Linked DNA regions of Homo sapiens. The protein of the gene in region 2 purifies or fractionates together with the protein of the main gene of each other region. This does not show direct contact. Each region holds a gene or a part of one and is shown on either strand. Other genes may lie near its edges.

What was found.
Region 1: the proteins of CD33 (region 2) and SAAL1 purify together in Homo sapiens (affinity purification with mass spectrometry; 2 studies listed by BioGRID and IntAct, with this or other methods). This does not show direct contact.
Region 3: the proteins of CD33 (region 2) and SLC39A11 purify together in Homo sapiens (affinity purification with mass spectrometry; 4 studies listed by BioGRID and IntAct, with this or other methods). This does not show direct contact.

Annotation. Positions count from the first base shown.
Region 1 is NC_000011.10:18,103,073-18,110,024, reverse strand, and holds the start of SAAL1 (protein SAAL1), read left to right. Parts: upstream 1-3,942; 5' UTR 3,943-3,983; coding exon 3,984-4,118; intron 4,119-6,678; coding exon 6,679-6,792; intron 6,793-6,952. UniProt on the Homo sapiens protein: Plays a role in promoting the proliferation of synovial fibroblasts in response to pro-inflammatory stimuli.
Region 2 is NC_000019.10:51,228,072-51,235,099, reverse strand, and holds part of CD33 (myeloid cell surface antigen CD33 isoform 1 precursor), read right to left. Parts: intron 1-7,028. UniProt on the Homo sapiens protein: Sialic-acid-binding immunoglobulin-like lectin (Siglec) that plays a role in mediating cell-cell interactions and in maintaining immune cells in a resting state.
Region 3 is NC_000017.11:72,844,679-72,851,706, reverse strand, and holds part of SLC39A11 (zinc transporter ZIP11), read left to right. Parts: intron 1-1,902; coding exon 1,903-2,073; intron 2,074-7,028. UniProt on the Homo sapiens protein: Zinc importer that regulates cytosolic zinc concentrations either via zinc influx from the extracellular compartment or efflux from intracellular organelles such as Golgi apparatus. May transport copper ions as well.

The sequences.
Region 1 (6,952 bases), on a different chromosome or scaffold from region 2:
CTCACTGCAGTCTCAACTTCTTGGGCTCAAGCTACCCTCCCACCTCAACCTCCTGAGTAGCTGGGACTACAGGTGCTCCCCACCACACCTGGCTAATTTTAAAAAGAACATTTGTAGAGACAGGGTCTTACTATGTTGCCCAGGTTGGTCTTGAACTCCTGGGCTCAAGTGATCCTCCCACCTTAGCCTCCCAAAATGCTGAGATTACAGGCATGAGAACACCGTACCTGGCCTGTACAGTACTTTCAATAACCTTTGAGTAACTAGGGAAGGCATGAATTGACTTGTGTTCAGGATCAAAGTGAGAGATATTGGGACAAAAAAAAAGAAAGGAAAAAAAACCTGCTTTCTGGTTATAAAATGTAATTCTGTTTGATTAGCACACTGATGACATTGGAGAGTGTGTAATAACTAAGGATTATGATTAATCCAATTCTGTGCACCTGAGATCCAAAGAGAAAAGAAAAAAAACAAAACTCATGGAGCCTAGCTGTGAGTATCAGACTCAAATAAAAGTTGAGAAGACATTGGGAGGTTATCTCAGTAATGCCAACAACTTACAAATGAATTTTAGACTGGCCTCTTTCTTTTTTTTTTTTTTTTTTGAGACAGGATCTCACTCTGTCACCCAGGCTGGAGTGCACCGGTGCGATTTCAGCTCACTGCAACATCCACCTCCCAGGCTCAAGCCATCTTCCCAGCTGGGAATACAGGTGTGCGCAACCATGCCTGGCTAATTTTCATATTTTTTGTAGAGACCAGGTTTCTCCATGTTTTCCAGGCTGGTCTTGAACTCCTGACCTCAAGTGATCAGCCCACCTCAGCCTCCCAAAGTGCTAGGATTATAGGCATGAGCCATCGCGCCCAGTCCTGGCCTCTTCTTTTTAAAACTCATTTTTATTTTATTAAGAATAAAACAAATAATATACCATGAGTATATGTCAAAATTTAACATAAATTATATATCATAAACCAGCAAGTATTGAATTGTGGACTCACATCAATATGATGGTTGGTAAACATAACCTATATGTGTGTATATGATAAAAGAAATGAGTTGGGAGGCCGAGGCGGTGGATCACGAGGTCAGGAGATCGAGACCATCCTGGCCAGCATGGTGAAACCCCGTCTCTACTAAAAATACAAAGAATATTAGCCAGGCGTGGTGGTGGGCACTTGTAGTCCCAGCTACTCGGGAGGCTGAGGCAGGAGAATGGTGTGAACCCGGGAGGCGGAGCTTGCGGTGAGCCGAGATCGTGCCACTGCACTCCAGCCTGGGCGACAGAGCGAGACTCCATCTCAAAAGATAAATAAATACATTAATTAATTAAAATAAAATAAATAAAAGAAATGAGCTGGGTATGGTTGCTCATGCCTGTAATCTTAACACTTTTGGAGGCTGAGGTGGGAGGATCACTTGAGATCAGGAGTTGGAGACCAGCCTGAGCAACACAGGGAGACCTTCTGTCTCCAAAAAGGTAACTCTCTGCAAGCCTGACTGCTGAAACTGCCTCTTGTAAACGGAGACCAGTTTTATCTAACAACTGCTGAAACAACCTACTGTGACTCTAAGACTAATTTTACCTGCTGCCATCTCTCACCAATCCTAGCTTGCAAGCTCCCCCAAACCTTACTAAAACCAATAAAATTTCTTTCAAAACAACGTGTAACATTTCTCCTTTTTATAAAAGCCCCAACCTTCTCTTTGTACTTCAGATATATTGAAGACGCCCACCTGTCTCATCTGTGTGTATGCCCTGAATTGTAATTCTTACTTTCTAAATCAATTGCTTTAAATTTAGAGATTCATCTCTATGTTTTGTTTGACTTTGACGTAAGTATCACAGTAATTCTAGGCAAACATTGGACACCTTCATTATGTTTTCTAATATAGTTATGACTGAGTATTTAAAATATTCATGTGGACATTTTATTTTAAATAATTTCGGCCGGGCGCGGTGGCCCGCGCCTGTAATCCCAGCACTTTGGTAGGCCGAGGCGGGCGGATCACGAGGTCAGGAGATCGAGACCATCCTGGCTAACACGGTGAAACCCCGTCCCTACTAAAAATACAAAAAAAAAATTAGCCGGGCGAGGTGGCGGGAGCCTGTAGTCCCAGCTACTCTGAAGGCTGAGGCAGGAGAATGACGGGAACCCCAAGGGGCGGAGCCTGCAGTGAGCCGAGATCGCGCCACTGCACTCCAGCCTGGGCGACAGCGAGACTCCGTCTCAAAATAAATAAAATAAATAAATAAATAAATAATTTCATGTCTCCATTCCTGTTTGGTCATTATATTGATATTTTTGAAATTTCATGTGGAAGTAGCTTATATCATCTATAAATTTAATTCCATTAAATCAAAGTGGGTACTTGTAAATCAATTCCATCATAGGTAATTTTTTTAGTTTAATGTTTACGATTCTTATGGAGAAAGAAGTGTTTTTCATTTACCTTTGCATGGGTGCTTAAAATACACATTTCTATTTCAAGATGACACTGAAAAATTCTTCTAATATAACAGCAGCAAAAATGTAATTCTGCAATTACAAAAGTGCTAAACTGAAATCCATAATTAAGGTTTTCTCATGTTTACAATTGTGGTTCTTTAATCAATACTAATACTATGCAGGTCTGTTGTAAGGTTTCTAGATTCGGTTTAAACACACGCACACAATACTGTCAGTTGTAGGAGGCTTTACAAGTTATATTTCATGCACTTTTTTTTAAAGAGTTCTAAAAGAGCCAACCAGTCCACAAGACAGACAGAAAAAAAGTTAAATTAACTGGAGTAAATTGGACTCTTAACATTCGAAACATGCAAGATTCTGCAGCAAACTGGGAGTACTTCAGGATTGGCCTGCTATCTTCCTTAGTATTAATTTCATCTTAACAGTTTAAGAAGTTGGACATTTTAACACCATCAAGCGCATTTAGGTGACGTGTTTCTTGTGTGTTAACTTGGCTCCCCGGAATGATCTAGTTAGTGAACTAGTCACTAATAATTTGGTCACCAGGCAAATCAAGCCTACACGAAAGGAAGCGACTATTCAAAATACCGTAGTATCATCTGAACCTACCCAAATAATTTATGTTCAACATAAACATGTAACTTCAATAATGAGATGACTCATTAATGAGTCAAGCTCCTCCAACAAGACAAAGACAACATCTCTTCTTCTAAGGTTTAAGTTTTGCATAGAAATCCGGATACATGGAATAGCCCATACCAACAGTCATTGCTCCTACAACAAAGCTGGACTGCCACACGCATGTGGATCAGGTGACGTGATATTTTAGTATTTCCCCTGCTTTTCAATTTGTATAATCCGTATGCAGCAACTACTGCAAAACCTGCCATTCCAATGGGGACAAATGGTGCCTCTTTAGTTTTTCGAATCACTTTGGATCCCTGGAATCCCTCACAAGCCATCCAGCTTCCCCTACGGATATTTTTAGGAATGGCAACAGTGGCCAGAGATCAGAGGATTATATTATTAGGGTTATACAACTTTTATATAAAAAAAGTGGCTTCTGACCAGGCGCGGTGGCTCACGTTTGTAATCCCAACACTTTGGGAGGCCGAGGCAGAAGGATTGCTTGAGCCAGAAGTTCGAGACCAGCCTGGGCAACATAGATCAGAAGGCGAATAGAATAAGTCCGCTAGCTTTGAGATTCACATCTGTTCCTGAGGCTTCCTCACTGCTCCCCACCCTTCCTTCTTCAATCAGTCTAAGAGCTCCTGGAGAAATGGAACACCTGATTCAGTGAGGGTGACAAATAATTATGAGTATGTTCGTGCCAGGGTCCTCGATAGGATGGGGTGGGGGAGGTCAAGCCGCCTTGGCAGCTGGCCAGGCTCCGAACAGCAGATGGCGCTGTAGGGGGAGTCCCACCGGGTACGCCGGGCGCTCTGGCACTAGGGCGCCGGTCGTCTCCTCCGCAGCTTCCGGCACGGCCTTCAAGCGCGGGACGCGACAAAGTCATGGACCGCAACCCCTCGCCGCCGCCGCCGGGTCGCGACAAGGAGGAGGAGGAGGAGGTGGCCGGTGGAGACTGCATAGGGAGCACGGTCTACAGCAAACACTGGCTCTTCGGCGTCCTCAGCGGACTCATCCAGGTGTGGAAACTCGCGCCACGCGTGGGGTGTCCCTACATCCCCCAGGCACCGGGGCTCCGCCTCTGGCGAATCCTCCTGCCCCGGGAGCCGCCATCCCCACAAAGACCCCTCCCCAGGCGTGCGCTGCGGGACCTTGCTCCTTGCGTTTCGCCGGCCGCTGCGGACCCCAAAACTATCTGGGCCCCCTCGGGGTCTCTCGACACAAAGGGAAGTATAATGGTAGGGATGCTGAAATACTTGCCGTTCTATTTTGCTTTCCCAAGTTCTCCAAAAATACATGATCGTGTAACTGCATTCCTCGGGTTTTGCTCCCCATCCCCACTGTCATTTCTGAAGCCCAGGTCCTTAATTTATGTATTTCATGGACTATCGTTGTAATAGAATAAATGGTGACTTTAGGGTTATACAACTTTTATATTAAAAACGTGGCTTCTGACCAGGCGCGGTGGCTCACCTCTGTAATCCCAACACTTTGGGAGGCCGAGGCGGAAGGATCGCTTGAGCCAGGAGTTTGAGACCAGCCTGGGCAACATAGACCTGGTTTCTACAAACTTAAAAAAAAAAAAAAAAAAAAGCCGGTCGTGACGGTGCACGCCTGTAGTCCCAGCGACTCAGGAGGCTGAGGCTGGAGGATCGCTTGAGCCTGAAGTTGGAGGCTGCAGTGAGCTATGATCCAGCTTCTGCACTCCAGGCTGGGGGACGGAGTAAGACCCTGTCTCAAAAAAACAAAAAACGCAGCTTCCTTACCCACTAGCTGCAGGTCACCTAACGGCTCAGAACCTCTATTTGTCCCTTAATTTCTATAAAATGGGATTATAATATTTATATTATATATAAGGTTATTGTGTAGGTTAAGTGAGATTATAATGGCAACAGAGTGCTTAGCATGGTGTTTGGCTTATAGGAGGCTGTCAGTAAATGTGTTTTCTTCCCCCCATGTTTCCCTAATTGGTTCCTCTCCTCCTATTGTCTATCCTCTCCAGTCAATTTTCTACACAGCTGCCAGAATAATCTTCTTTAAAGACAGGGCTATTCATGATACTGCTCTTAGTTCTTTTTGCCTGGGAGAAAAATGCATGTTTCTTGAAGTTTGGAATCCAGGGCTGTTTGTACATTTTCCAGCCTCATCTTCTCATGATACACTGTGTTCCATCAACTCTGAACTGTTCACCATCCCCAAACATGCTAGGCCCTTTCTTAACTCTGAACTCTTGTGCTTTCCTCTGAATACTCACTTCTCTCCTTCTTCACATGACAAACTACTATTCTTCCTTTAAAATTTAGCTTAAATATCAGCACCTAAGGGAAGGTTCCCCATCTTCTCCTAGGAATAGGTCATTGGTCCATCGTTTTTGCTACCAGAACTCTTTGTCCACAATTCAGTTGAATCACTTTGCCTTTTCTAATATGACTATCCCTTTACATGTCTTTCCCCACTAGATCCTAAAAGTTAAAAAAAAAAAAAAGCTTAAATGTAAGGGATTATATCTTACTTGTCTTTGTATATCTACCCCAGTGCCTAGCAACAGTATTTACTTTGTGAATGTTGAAAGAGTAGATCTACCCAAGGTACTACATTTTTAAAAGAAGATTTTTGCAAGAGAAGATACTTTGCTGATAGCCTCTTTGTGACTTCTAAACGATTATGGGTTAATATTAAAGTAAGTGCTCACTTAACATCAGTAGGTTCTTGGAAATTGTGACTGTAAGCAAAATTACTGATAATGAAACCAATTTTACCATAGCTAATTGATATAAACAAGAGTTAAGTCCCTGTGGCATATTTCTGGACACAAGAACATCACCAAACTTCTAAATGAGGACCTAAAACACTTCTAATATTAAACATTGAGATAAATGTGAGCTATAATACGTTTAGGAAAGGTTAATAAAAACAAGATAATTATTCACCCAGTTTTGGTGAGTTAGTGAGTGATGGTGGTTGTAGTGATTATCACTACAACCTTTATTCTTTGATTGTGTTAAATCAAGGAATAAATGTTTACAAAGCAAAAATGATCACCTCTTACTACTGTACAGTCCAAAAACAATAACAAATAAGGCAGGCTTACTGAGCACTTTCCTACCACATAATTATTGTCACGCATCTCTATGGTTATTGTCTTCTTTACAGATTTTTGTTTTATAATAATTTGTATTCATCCATTTCCCAACCCACTTGCTCTGGTTCAGGGTTGAGGGTGGCTGGAGCCTGTACCAGCAGTTCAAGGTGCAAGGCAGAAACCAGCCCTGGACAGGATGCCATCCCATCACAGGTACACACACACCCACACTCACTCAGATTGGGACCATTTAGATACCCGTTGTGCTAATGTGCAAATTTGGGGGATGTAGGAGGAAACTAAAGTACCTGGAACAGACTCATGCACTCTTGGGGAGAACATGCAAACTCCACACAGACAGTGGCCCTGGCCAGGAATCAAATTTTTTTCTCATCAGCGTTACGAGGAAATGTTATTTGATCACCTGCTGTATTTGGGTACCTGGTTAGTATTGTAGACAACTTTTATTCATGTTTTCTTTCTTTGTGTTTCTGAAGATTGTTAGCCCTGAAAACACCAAATCTAGCTCAGATGATGAGGAGCAGCTGACGGAGCTTGATGAAGAAATGGAGAATGAAATTTGCAGAGTATGGGATATGTCAATGGATGAGGTATGAGGCTGGAAACAAAACTCTGAAGACTGTTGGGTGAGGAGATGGTGAATGAATGTTTTAAAAACGGTTCAGTCCTTCACTCTGGGGAAAGGCTTTATCTCCTGTCTGTAATCACACCCATATATGATATAGGGAATGAGATCCCAGGGGCTATAAA
Region 2 (7,028 bases):
CTCCTCTCCAGCATGTAGAGAGGGGTGACTTCACCTCCAAAATGGGGTTTAGCTCCTAGATCTTCCCACCCATCATAGACATCAATATTGACCACGACCATGAGATGAAGTACACAGTGCACCTGACACCTCTTGTCCCACCCTCTCTCTCTGGTGCACAAAACATCATCTCTCCTAGGACTCAGGTTCCTCTCCACCCTGGGTCTTTCTGAAATGAACCTCAGACATAGCCCCTGAAGGACTGTGAAGCTCTGAGCCTCTTGGATGAGAGAGAGAGAAAGCACTGGAATGCTGATAGGCCTTGTCTCTTCTTTCTTCCCACTGGCCCCATCACTTAGGGTCAAAGGTGGTCCTTTTGGCCTTAAAAAGGGCCTGGAAGCAGGGTGGGGCAGGGAGGTGGTTCTCAGACCTTCTTAGACCCAGACAGTTCTCCTGGACCTGCCTGGCTGTGCCTTCTAGGTCCCAACACTCAGAGTCAGGGGCGTGTCTCTGAGCATCATTGTTAACAGTTTGATAACCACTACTGAGGGAACTGTTCCTGCTCTCACTGGGCTCACTGTCCACTGAGGTGCCAGATGCCATTATTAATTGGAATAGGGCAGTGGAGAGAGCACTGGTCTTTGGACAGAGGCCAGGGCTAAGGGTTGAGGTATGGACAGTAGAAAAAAATGCCCTAAAGAGATTTTTAGGGAAGTGTGACTATTCTATATGATACTCTCATGGTGGATTCATGTCATTATACATTTTTAAAAAGCCTGTAAAATGTACAACACCAAGAGTGAACTTTAATGTAAACTATGGGCTTCAGGTGACAATGATATGTCAATGTAGTTTTATTGACTGTAACAAATGTACCACTCTGATGGGGGATGCTGATGGCCGGGGAAACTATGTGTAAGGGTAGAGGGCATACGGGAAGTCTTAGTATCTTCTGCTCAATTTCTTCATGAAAAATAAGGTTCATTTATAAATGCTCCCAAGATGATCAGCGACTAGAAGATTCCACTCAATTTTGCTGTGAAACAAAAACTACTCTGAAAAATAAAACCTATTAAAAAAAAATGCCCCCATTGGAGCAAAATGGCTCACCGGAGGTGCCTGGAGCTCATCCTCCCCCGTGTCACCAGACAAGAAAGGACCAAGGCAATGAATAAACCACAGCAAAGATTTGAGTGGAGTGTCGAAGGGAGAGTAGTGTAGTGCAGCAAGGGAGTGGAGAGTTACCTGTGGTAATTGGAAACCCAGGAGGGCAGCATGGAGGCACCCGGGCTTTGCAGCTCCATCTCCCCAGCCCAGATTGGTTTGTCCCAGAGACAGGAAGGATTTCCCCTTGTAGGGAAATGATAAGCAGAGGAATCCAACCAACCTCCAGTGCCACTGCAGATACCTACATTCCTTACTACAGGTTAATCTTACAGTCCTCACAAGCTCTGAGCACAGTTGGAAGAGCTGCCAGGAATTCACACAGCTGCATGGAGCATTTGGTGTGCACTCCCAACTCCCTAACCAGCCCCTGCGGGCAAGCTGCTACAACACAGAACCATCTTGAGACCACAGCCATCTCTGGAGTGCACCCTCCTCTGGGGGCCAGTGGCATGCACCTCTTTATCATTGTGCATCTTCATTCCACTAAACCTGCAGTAGTGGCTGAATACCACAATTAGAGCTGCATGGAGCCTGGGCCCAGGATTGGCTGGGACTCTGGCCCTGAACAGCAGAGAAACCAACCCCTGCTGCCCGTACTTCCAGCTGGAGGAAAGGTCTTATAGTCCCACTCAGGGCGAACACACAATTGAGTTGGCCAAACTACTGTGCATGCTCACCTGAATGGGAGAGACCTCTGAGCCAACAAAGAGTTGATACATCCCCAGGCTGGGGTAGTGGTTATGTGCTCACACACAGGCTCTGAGAAACAGCCTTACGGTGCCCAGACGCCTTCTGTGGACATGACTCTGGCCTGCCCAAAGGCCACTCTCCCACAATTAGGGCCTGAGAAACAGCCTTGTGAGCCAACCCTTTTAGACATGACCCCAGGCAGAATGTGCTTGCATTCCAGGCCTGAGAAACAGCCCCATGGGCTACCACTGGCTGGTACACCCCCTAGGCCAGCTGAGCAGTCTTACACTCACATCCCAAACCCTAGATAAAGCTCTGAGTGCTACTCCTGGCAAAAACACACCTAGGCCAGCCAAGAGTCATTCAGCTTCATCTCAGCCCTGCAAAACAGCCATGTTGGCACCTCCAGCAGATATGCCCCCAGGTCAGCCAAGTAGTTGGGCACCTGTGTCCCATTGTTTTAATTCATGACTTGAAAGAGAAATTTAACAGAGAGATAGATATTATATAAAAGAACAAAGCAGAACTCCTACAGCTGAGAACTCAATAAATGAAATAAAAAACCGCAATCGAGAGCTTCAACAACAGGCTAGGTCAAGAAGAAAAAATAATTTCTGAACTTGAAGACAGATCTTCTGAAATAACACAGGCAGGTAAAAATAAGAGAATAAAATAGAACGAAGGAAACCTACAGGACTCATGGGACACAATCAAGCAAATATTCACATTATGGTATTTCCAGGAGGAGAAGAGAATGGAAAAGGTGTAGAAAACATATTTAATCCAGTAATAGGTGAAAACTTCCCAAGCCTTGGGAACTAGAAGGACATCCAGGTCCAGGAAGCTCAAAGTACTCTCAAAATATTCAACCCAAGCAAGTCCTCTCCAAAGCTCATTATGCCAAATTGTCAAAAGTCAAGTAAAGAATTGTAAAAACAGCAAGGTAAAAGTATCTAGTCACATATAGGATTATCCTTATTAGACTAACAGTGAGTTTCTCAGCAGTAACATTATATAGGCCAGGATAGAATGGGATGACATACTCAAAGTACTGAAAGATAAAAAACTTAACAGTCAAAAATACTATACCCAGAAAAGCTATCTTTCAGAAAAGAAGGAGAAATAAAATATTTCATAGATAAGCAAAAACTAAGGGAATTCTAATCACTCTTAGACTGGCCTTACAAGAAATGCTCAAGGGGCCAGGCACAGTGTGGCTCATGCCTATAATCCCAGCACATTGGGAGGTGAAGGCAGGCAGGTGGACCACTTGAGCTCTTTAATTTGAGACCAGCTTAGGCAAATGGCAACACCCTACCTCTACAAGAAACACAAAAATTAGCTGGGCGTGGTGGCACATGCCTGTAGTCCCAGCTACTTGGGAGGTTAAGGCAGGAAGATTGCTTAAGCCCAGGAGGTCGAGACTATAGTGAGCCGTGATCATGCCACTGCACTCCTGCCTGGGCGACAGAGTGAGACACTTTCTCAAAAAAAAAATAATAAAAATAAATAAGAGAAGAAAAAGAAAAGAAATGCTCAAGGGAGTCTTACATCTGGAAGTGAAAAGGCAAAAACACGTGAACTTAAAACTCACTGACAGCCCATACACAAAGAAGAAAGAGAAAGGAATCAAATCTTATCACTACAAAAAAAAAAAAAACATCAGCCAACCACAAAAAGAAACAATAAGAGGGGAAGTAAGGAACCAGGAATATATAAAACAATCAGAAAACAATCAATGAAATGAAAATAACCTATTAATAATAATGTGTATGTAAATGGATTAAATTGTCCCATTTAAAATATATGGACTGCCTGAATGAATGAAAAGAAAATCTAGACTCAGCTTGTTGGGGTGATCAGATCCAACACTAGGCCGTGGGGGCCACGAAGTCCAGCGGAGTCAAAGGAATGAGACAAGACAAGTTAATAGTACATAAAGTGAGTCCAGGGGGCCGACGCTAGTATGGAGGCTGTGAAGGCCCCGAGCTCTGGGAGCCCACACTATTTATTGGTAATCAAACAAAGAAGCAGGTGGTGAGGACGTGCAGAAGTGGGGATAGACAAGTGAGAACGTGAGGACTTTGGGGTAGAAAGGTAGCGGTGCATCAAGCATAGCTGTGACGGTTTAGCATATGCTCTGCTACTTGAAATAATGGAGAACAAGTTCTTTTCACTCAAGATACAATCAATTTATGATCCTGGGAGAGCAAGGAGCAAGGGGCCAGCAAGTCTGGACACATTCCAGAGGCTATGAGGGGTTTTATGCCCAGAGCCCTGGATTCTTTCCAAGCCACGAGGGGTTTTATGCCCTGGGCTTAGATTGCAGTGTGGCAGGGCAGCCTTCCACCCTTAGGCACAGAGCTTGGTGTTCCATAGGCCACGAGGGGTTTGAGACCCTGGACCCAGGACATGTTCCAAGACTCTTTTACATTATGTCAGACAAGCAAGCCCTGCCTCAGCCCTTCTACCAACACAGCTATATACTGCTTACAAGAAACTTATCTCACCTAGAAGACACACATAGACTGAAAAGGAAGAGATGGAAAAAGATATTCTACCCAAGTGGAAATGAAAGGAAGCAGGAATAGCTATACTTATCTCAGACAAAACGGACTACAAGTCAAAAGCTGTAAAGAGACAAAGAAGGACATTATATTATTATAAAGGGGTCAGTTCAGCACTATAATATAACAACTGTAAATACATATGCACACAACACCAGAGCACCCAGATATGTAAAGCAAATATTATTAGATATAAAGGGAGAGATAGACTCCAATACAATAATAGTTGAGGACTTCAACGCCCCACTCTCAGCATTGAACAAATCATCTAGACAAGATTAACAAATAAACGTTGGATTTAAACTGCACCATATACCAAATGAACCTAAGATATTTACAGAACATTTCAACCGACAGCTGCAGAATACACATGGTTTCATCAGCATGTGCAACATTCCCAAGGATCGACCATATGTTAGAACACAAAACAAGTGCCAAAAATTTTTAAAAACCAAAATGTATCAAGTATCTTATTTGACTACAATTGAATAAAACTAAAAATCAATACCAAGGGAAACATGCAAACTATACAAATACACAGAAATGAAACAAAATGATTCTAAATGACCAATAGTGAAGGAAGAAATTAAGAATGATATTTAAAAATTTCTCAAAATAAATAAAAATAGAAATAAAATATACCAAAACCTATGGGACACAGCAAAAACAGTTTTAAGAGACAACTTGAGAGAAATAAATGCCTACATCAAACAATTAGACAAATTTCAAGTAAACCATTTAACTGTGCATTTCAAGAAACTAGAAAGCAAGAACAAACCAAATCCAAAATCAGCACAATGAAAGAAATCATAAAGATCAGAGCAGAAATAAATGAAATTAAAAAAAAATCAATGAACAAGTTCGCTTTTTGGAAAAATAAATAAAATTGACAATCATTAGCTAAACTAAGAAAGAGACAGAAGACATAAAAATTAATAAAATCATAAATAAAAAAGAAGATGTCACAATGGTTACCACAGAAATACACAGGATCTTAGACACTACTATGAACAATATGCCAACAAATTTGAAAGTCTAGAAGAAATGGATAAGTTCCTGGACACATATAATCTACCGAGATTGAATCAAGAAGGTATAGAAAACTTCAGCAGACAAACAACAAGTAATGAGATTGAATGAATAATAAAAGGCCCCCCAACAAAGAAAATTCCAGGGCTGGATGGCTTCAGTGCTGAACTTTACTGAACCTTTAAAGAAAAAAAAATTATGCCAACTCTTCTCAAACTATTCCAAAAAATTGAAGTGGAGGCAACTCTTCCTAACTCATTCTACAAGGCCAGCATAACCATGACACCAAAATCAGAAAGGAGACAATAAAAAAAGAAAACTAGAGGCCAATATCCCTGATGAACATAGATGCAAAAATATTCAACAAAATAGTAGCAAATCAAATCCAACAATACATCAAAAAGATAACATACCATGATAAAGTGGGATTAATCCCAGAAAGGCAAGAATGATTCAACATATGCAAATCAATAAATGTTATACATATGTCAACAGAATGAAGGACATAAACCGTATGATCACCTAAATAGTTGCAGAATAAAAAGCATGTGTTAAAATTCAATATTGTTTCATGATAGAAACTCTCAATAAATTAGGTATAGAAGGAAAGTACCTCAACACAAAAAAGGCCATATATGACAAACCCATGGCTAACATCATACTGAATGGAGAAAAGCTGAAATCTTTTCCTCTAGGAACTGGATGTCCACTGTTATGACTCTTATTTTACATAGTACTGAAAGTCCTAGCCAGAGCAATTAGGCAAGAGAAAGAAATAAAAACCATCCAAACTGGAAAGGCGGAAGTCAAATTGTCTCTGCAAATAACATACAAAAACCTAAAGACTTGGCCAGGCGTGGTGGCTCATGCCTGTAATTCCAGCACTTTAGGAGGCCAAAGTGGGCAGATTGCTTGAGGCCAGGAGATCAAGACCAGCTTGGCCAACATGGTGAAATTCCATCTCAAAAACAAAACAAAACAAAACAAAACAAAACAAAAACCTAAAGACTCTAACAATAAAACTCTCAGAACTGATAAATGAATTTAGTAAATTTGCAGGATGCAAAATCAATATACAAAAATCAGTAGCATTTCTACACACAATGAATTAGCTGAAAATAAATCAGGAAGGCAATCACATTTACAATAGCTATAAGAGAATGAAGTATACCTAGGAATAAATTTAACCAAGGAGGTGACAAGCCTTAATAAGAAAAACTACAAAACACTGAGGAAATAAACTGAAGAGGATACAAACAAATGGAAAGACATTCCTTACTCATCAGATGAATTAATATTGCTAAAATGATTATACTACCCAAAGAAATCTACAGATTCAAACCTGGCTCTATCAAAATATCAATGTAATTCTTCACAGAATTAGAGGAAACAATCTTAAAATTCATATGGAACTAAAAATAGCCTGAATGGTCAAAGCAATCCCAAGCAAAAAAGAACAAAGCTGGAGGTATCACACTACAAGATTTCAAAATTTCAAAACTAGAAAATTTCAAAATTTCAAAAATTTAAAGATTTCAAAACTACAAAGCTGTAGTAACCAAAACAGCATGATATTGGCATAAAAGCAGATACATA
Region 3 (7,028 bases), on a different chromosome or scaffold from region 2:
CCTCTGGTTGGCTGAAGCTTGGCTGCCTGTGATTGGTTGAAGCTCAGCCGCTTGTGATTGACTGAGATCTAGCTATCCTATTACAAAAAATATATACTCCTAATGAGATTTTCATTTGTATACATACTAAGTTAGGTTGTAGTTCACTGCGAAGCAACTCAAAGTACAGCCTCAGACCAATGGCCTTTTGCTTATTTAATTTAACAGACACCTGAGTTATGCTTGCTGGGTTTTCTCTCCCAATAAAGGGACCCTTCATTCTGTCTGTGCCATCACGTGTTTAAGATTCACTCAAGACCTATCTCCTCTAGAAAGCCTTCCCCACAAATCCATCCCATGCTGTGAACTGAAAGCTGGATGCTCTCTCCCACTCTTGTCCTCCCAATTTCAAATCCACACAATTTGGCTCCATTATGAATAAACAAATAGCCCAGGGGACCATGGATATTTAGAATAAGGTTCTAAGAATGACATTCTTCCAATATAAGCCAATTTGTAAAGGCATTTTTAAAAGGAAGGTTTGCTCAGAAAACCCAAGGGCTGGGTGCTACGGATGGCCCATGAATGTCTGTGGCACGTGGGCTGCAGTTCTGCCCTTCTCTCTCCTGTCTAGCTGCATGGTTTCCCATCTCTGCTTGTTGATGTATATCTGATTCCTTCTGATTGTCTGTCCAGCCGCTTCCCTCGTTCCATTGTGGCAGAGCTGCTCGCGCATCACGTGATTTTTCAGATTTAGCTTGCACGTTGGAGTGGCCAATTCTCCCTGGAGAGGGATTCTGATTGGCTGAGCCAGGCGTCTGAATTGGTTCCCATAAATCAGTGTGACCAGGAGAGCAGGGTCACATATTATGTAATTCTGTACGGCTATGGGAGAGGGAACATGATACTAACAATAACCATCAATACAATCAGCACTTAGTACATTCTAAGTACTTTCAGACATTGTTGCATTTAATCCTCACAAAACGCTTGTGACATAGGTAATGCTATTATTCTAGTTTTACGAATCAGAAAACCACTGCACAGAGAGGTGAAACAACTTATTTGGCACTACACAGCTGGCCAGTGGCTGAGTCAGGAAGGGAAGCAGGCAGCATGGTTCTGGCATCTGTGTCTCTAATCATGACTCAACATTGCTTGTCTTAAACAGGCATTGCTAGGATACCACATCTTCATCTTTTTTATCCTTCTTGGTACCTATGCATTGGGCACTGAATGCCTGTTCAGTGATTTTTTTTTTCTTTTTCTTTTTTGAGACAGGGTCTTACTCTGTCACCCAGGCTGGAGGCCAATGGTGTGATCACAACTCACTGCAGCCTCAACTTCCCGGGCTCAAGCCATCCTCCCATCTCAGCCTCCCAAGTAGCTGGGACTGCAGGTGCATACCACCACGCCTAGCTAATTCTTTATTTTTATTTTTTGTAGAGATGGGATTGTGCCATGTTGCCCAGGCTGGTCTCGAACTCCTGGGCTCAAGCCATCTGCCTGCCTCAGCCTCCCGAAGTGTTGGGATTTCAGGCGTGAGTGACCATGCTCAGCCTAGTCAATGAATTGTTCGCTGAATGAATGGATGCCTGAGTGAATGAGAGAACACACAGAAGCATGCATAGTCTACAGGAAGTTTGGAATGGGCAATTGTGACGTGGGTCCTTTTTGGAGAGGAGTGAAGATGGCAGTCCCAGCTACTTGGGAGGCTGAGATGGGAGGATGGCTTGAGCCCGGGAAGTTGGGGCTGCAGTGAGTTGTGATCACACCATTGCCCTCCAGGCTGGGTGACAGAGTAAGACCCTGTCTCAAAAAAGAAAAAGAAGCTTCTTCCTGCTGTAGCTTGCTGGAGAGTTAACGTGCACATGTTCAAAGCGCTGTCTTTCCCCATCTCTCTTTTTTTTTTTTTTTGCTCAGACAAGAGTGAGAATGGTGAGGCATATCAGAGAAAGAAGGCGGCAGCCACTGGCCTTCCAGAGGGTCCTGCTGTCCCTGTGCCTTCTCGAGGGAATCTGGCACAGCCCGGCGGCAGCAGCTGGAGGAGGATCGCACTGCTCATCTTGGCCATCACTATACACAACGTTCCAGGTGAGGTCTTGCCCGTGAGCGTGACAGCCACTGCCTGAAGGTAAAGTCATTTGTCAGCACAGTTGTCTGGCTGGAAAAGGGGAAGGGGCAATTGTGACGTGGGTCCTTTTTGGAGAGGAGTGAAGGTGGCAGTACAAATCTTTCTTGGCTTTATTTTTTGATCGTCATAGATAGATCATCATATGTGAAAACTTCCCATTCCGGTTAGTTTAAACAACTTCTACTTCCTTTTTGTTTACATATTTGTTACCAAGTTATTTGGAGCATAAATTCATAACTGTTACATGATTGCTGTGGAGGGTATCTTTTATAAATACTGGGTATCTCTGGTTCTGCTTAATGCTATTTGAAAACATAGTTGACCCTTGAACAACACAGATCTGAACTACGTGAGTTCACTTACACTCAGATTTTCTTCCGCCTCTGCCCCCTGAGAGAGCAAGACCAACCCCTCCTCTTCCTCAGCTGACTCAATGTGAAGAGGATGAGGATGAGACCTTTATGATGACTCACTTCCACTTAATGAATAGTAAATATATGTTATCTTATGAATTCCTTAATAACATTTTTTCTTGAGATTGCTATATTGTAAGAATACAGTTTATAATACATATAACATACACTATATGTACTAATTGACTATGTTATTGGTAAGACTTCTGGTCAACAGCAGGTTATTCATAGTTAAGTTTTGGGGAAGCCAAAAACTCTCTGCAGATTTTCTACTGCGCAGGGAACCAGCATTCCTAACGTCTGCATTGTTCGAGGGTCAAGTCTATTGAGTTCAGTATAATTTGGCACTGATAATTGCCTTACCTGCCTTCTTTATGTGGGCATCTTTCTGAAATGTTCTTACCAATCCTTTCCTATTTAGCATTTTAGAGTAATTTCTTTTATGTCTTTTTTTTTTTTTAAGACAGAGTCTTGCTCTGTCCCCCAGGCTGGAGTGCAGTGGAGCGATCTTGGCTTACTGCAGCCTCTGCCTCCTGGGTTCAAGTGATTCTCCTGCCACAGCCTCTTGAGTAGCTGGGATTACAGGTGTGCACCACCATGCCTTGCTAATTTTTTGTATTTTTAGTAGAGATGGGGTTTCACCATGTTGGCCAGGCTGGTCTTGAACTCCTGACCTCAGGTCATCCACCTGCCTCGGCCCCTCAAAGTGTTGGGACTACAGGCGTGAGCTACCACGCTGGCCTGTTTTATGTCTTTAGATGTATTTTAATTGGAAAAAAGGACATATTAATGCCTTATTTCAAAAACAATGAATGTTTCTTTTAGAGCAACTAGAAAACATGATTAAGCATAGGAAATGATAAAGATATTTTTAAAAATAAATAAACTGAGGGAACCTGAGCAATTTGGGATGCATTTTGAAATTCCAACTCTCTCACTTCCTAAGGAGGTTATCTTGACGAATTGCTTGAACTCCCTGAACCTTGGTTTTCTCATCTAAGAAATGGGGATAATGCCACAAGTGGCTTACTTAGAGAATTAAATGAGATGCTAAATATACATACAGCTTTCAGTACAGTGCTTGGGACTTACGAGCGCATTGTTGGCATCGATGATACTCCTGCTGCCTTTTCAGCCATGATTTCCTCGATCTTGAGATCTTAAACATGCTGACCCACCTTTTGTTGTTTGGGAATTCGAGTTTGAGCAATAATCTTCCCCAGGGAGCATCCTTGGGTGATACATTTTCTGAGTCCTTGCAGAGTTCATGGTGCCAATCTGTTACTCTAATACAGGAGCAAGAACTTGGCTGGGCAAAGCTTTCTAGTCATGACATTTTTCTCTACAAAGCTTCTGCAGATGTTGATCCCTTGTCTTCTGGCTTTAGTATTGTGGAAGCAAAAAGCATGGCCAAAGTGAGTCTGTTCCTCTGTATAACTTGATATTGTTTTGCTTGCACAATGAAGACTTTTTTTTGTCGTCTTTAAAGTGTGAAAATTCTAATACATATTATATATTCTAGTATATATTAAATCTGCCGAAAGCACTATGTGTTTAATTACTTTTTAAGCTCAGATATTTCTCTAGATAAGAAGCACATTCCTCTGTTATTTCTATCCTAATCTTAGGAATGTCTATCATACGATCATAGGTAGGCCAGTTTTCCCAACATTTTCATCAGTTTATGTGTCTCCCTCATTCCCCTCTTGACCCTTTTCTTTGAGTTATGAATAAGCTTTTTTTAGTTGGTTTTCCAATTTTTTTTTTTTTTTTTTTTATGAGACAGAGTCTCGCTCTGTCGCCCAGGCTGGAGTGCAGTGGTGCAGTCTCAGCTCACTTCAATCTCCACTTCCCGGTTCAAGCAATTCTCCTGTCTCGGCCTCCCGAGTAGCTGGGATTAAAGATGTGTGCCATCATGCCCAGCTAATTTTTGTATTTTTCGAAGAGACGGGGTTTCACCATGTTGGCCAGGCTGGTCTTAAACTCCCGGCCTCAAGTGATTAGCCCACCTCAGCCTCTCAAAGTGCTGGGATTACGGGCATGAGCCACAGCATCTGACCCTGTTGGTTTTCTAGATCTTGGTATTCAGTATGTCTTGAGATAAAGATGGGGTCTTATATGGACCTCACTGCACAAAGATGGCCAAAGTGGGTTAGCCTTGGTGGAAGACCCTGCTCGTGCCCACCCCGTATCTTAAAGAGGTCATTGAAAGACCCCTTGGTCCCCTGCAGAGGACTACTTAGGAGCCCTGACAGCAACTTGTAGCCTGTTAAGTGCTAATAGTTAGAGAAGAGAGGTTACTTGTTTTTCATTCATAATAGTAGCTGTCTTTCTGCCATTTATGACCCCTTCTTTAGCCAATTGAGGAAGAGTAAAGATCTGCCCAGTGGGTTTAGTGTTAAATAAGGTAACTACACTGAGGTGTATTACGGCAACTATTTCTCTGAAGAACAAAAATGTGGTCTAAGGTCCAGACTTTATAGCAATGGAATGAGTATCCAACTTTCCTCTAATGGACCCTTTTATATACCACACCTGCCACTGTACTTGGGTGATTCATTATGCTCAGCTGGAATTATTTCCTGGCTCATCCCAATGGAAGGCCAGGATGGTTCAGAGTTTACTTTCTCAAATGTTTGTTGACTCCAGTGACAACTTGGAATAAAGCCAGAAACAGGAGGAAGATGTGTGGAATGACAGCAATATTTGATGATCTTAAATGAGCATAAATTAAAATCTTACTTCTTCCCTGACAGGAGACCCTATTCTGTGTCTTTGGAGTTTCCAAGTCTAAGTTCAGCCTTTGTCACTTCTATGGTGATGCAAAAGTATTTTTTCAAATAAGGATTGAGGCCAGGTGCAGTGGCTCATGCCTGTAATCCCAGCACTTTGGGAAGCCAAGGTGGGCGGATCACTTGAGGTCAGGAGTTTGAGACCAGCCTGGCCAACATGGCGAAACCCCGTCTCTACTAAAAATACAAAAATTAGCTGGGAGTGGTGGCACATGCCTGTAATCCCAGCTACTTGGGAGGCTGAGGCAGGAGAATCACTTGAACCCAGGAGGCAGAGGTTGCAGTGAGCCAAGATCATGCTACTGCACTGCAGCCTGGGCGACAAAGCAAGGCTCTGTCTCAAAAAAAAAAAAAAAAAAAAAAAAAAAAAGAGAGAGAGAGAGAGAGATTCATTGGTTTGAAAGATGGATTCTCTTATCTCCACACTCCATCCTGGGTGACACAGCGAGACTCCGTCTCAAAAATAATAGTAAAATAAAAAATAAATTGAAATGAGGATTGAGTGCCTTCCAGGAATCTCAATTGAGTTAGATTTCACCAGAAGCATGGTGGTAATAGTCACTGGTTTCAGTAAACTGGAGGACAGCTGGCTTGACTGGATGGAGAGGTTTGAAGGGACATTTCTTTCCCAGTCTTGTCTTTTATTTATTATATTTGAGTATTGTATTCCATGTACTTGGGTTATATCAGTACTAAAACAGACCAAGATCTCTGGCCTTCTATAACCAATATTATAGCAAGGTGAGATAGTCGATGAACATCATCATAATAAATGAATTTTATATTGTGTTAGAAGGTGGTTAGTGATTTAAAAAAAGAAAAAGTTCAACAGGGCAGAGGAGACGGTAGAGTGTTAGAGGAAGAAATTGCCATTTTAAATAGAGTAGGTAGGGAGGGGCTCCTTGAGATGTCCTTGAATTTGAGTCAGTCATGCAGATCTCTGGGAAACAGTGAGTGTTTTAGGCAGAGGGAACAGCCAGTGCAAAGGCCCTGAGGCAGGAGCATGTCTGGCCCCCACAAGGAGTAGCCAAGAGTCCACTGTGGCCACAGCAGGGTGAGCAGCAGGGAGAGAAGTACAAGGTGAGGGCAGGGATGTCAGCCCCTCCTTTAGATGGAACTTGGAGGCATAAGAATGTTTGTTTTTGCTCTGTGTGTGATGAGCCATTGCAGAGTTTTGAAGAGGGTGTGTATGACTTGACTTGAGCTTTGAAAGTTTGTTTCTCTTTAGATACTGAATTGAGATGGGACTTAGGAGAGGTAAGGATGGAAGCAGGGAGGCCTATGTAGAGGCCACTGCAGAATCCAGATCAAAGATGATAGTGGTGCAGACCAAGGTGGTCGTGCTGGATGTGGTGAGAAGGGATCCCTTCCTGGGTCCCGATTGAAGGTGGAGCCAATGGGATTTGCCGATGGATTGGATGTGGGATATGAGAGAAAGCGAGGAGCCAGGAGGGACCCGGAGGTTTCAGGGCTGCCCAGCTGCAGGGATGGAATTGCCATCAACTGAGACGAGGAAGGCTGCAGCTCCAGGGGCTTTAGGGGGACTATCAGGAATTTGTTTTTTGATTGTGAGGTTTGATTGCCATTAGACATTCAAATGGAGATACTGACTAGACAGCTGGATACATGAGTTTGGAGTTGGCTTGCAAAGTCTAGCTAGAGTTATAGATTTCTGAATCATTGGCCCATGAATGTTTTTTGTTTTTTTGT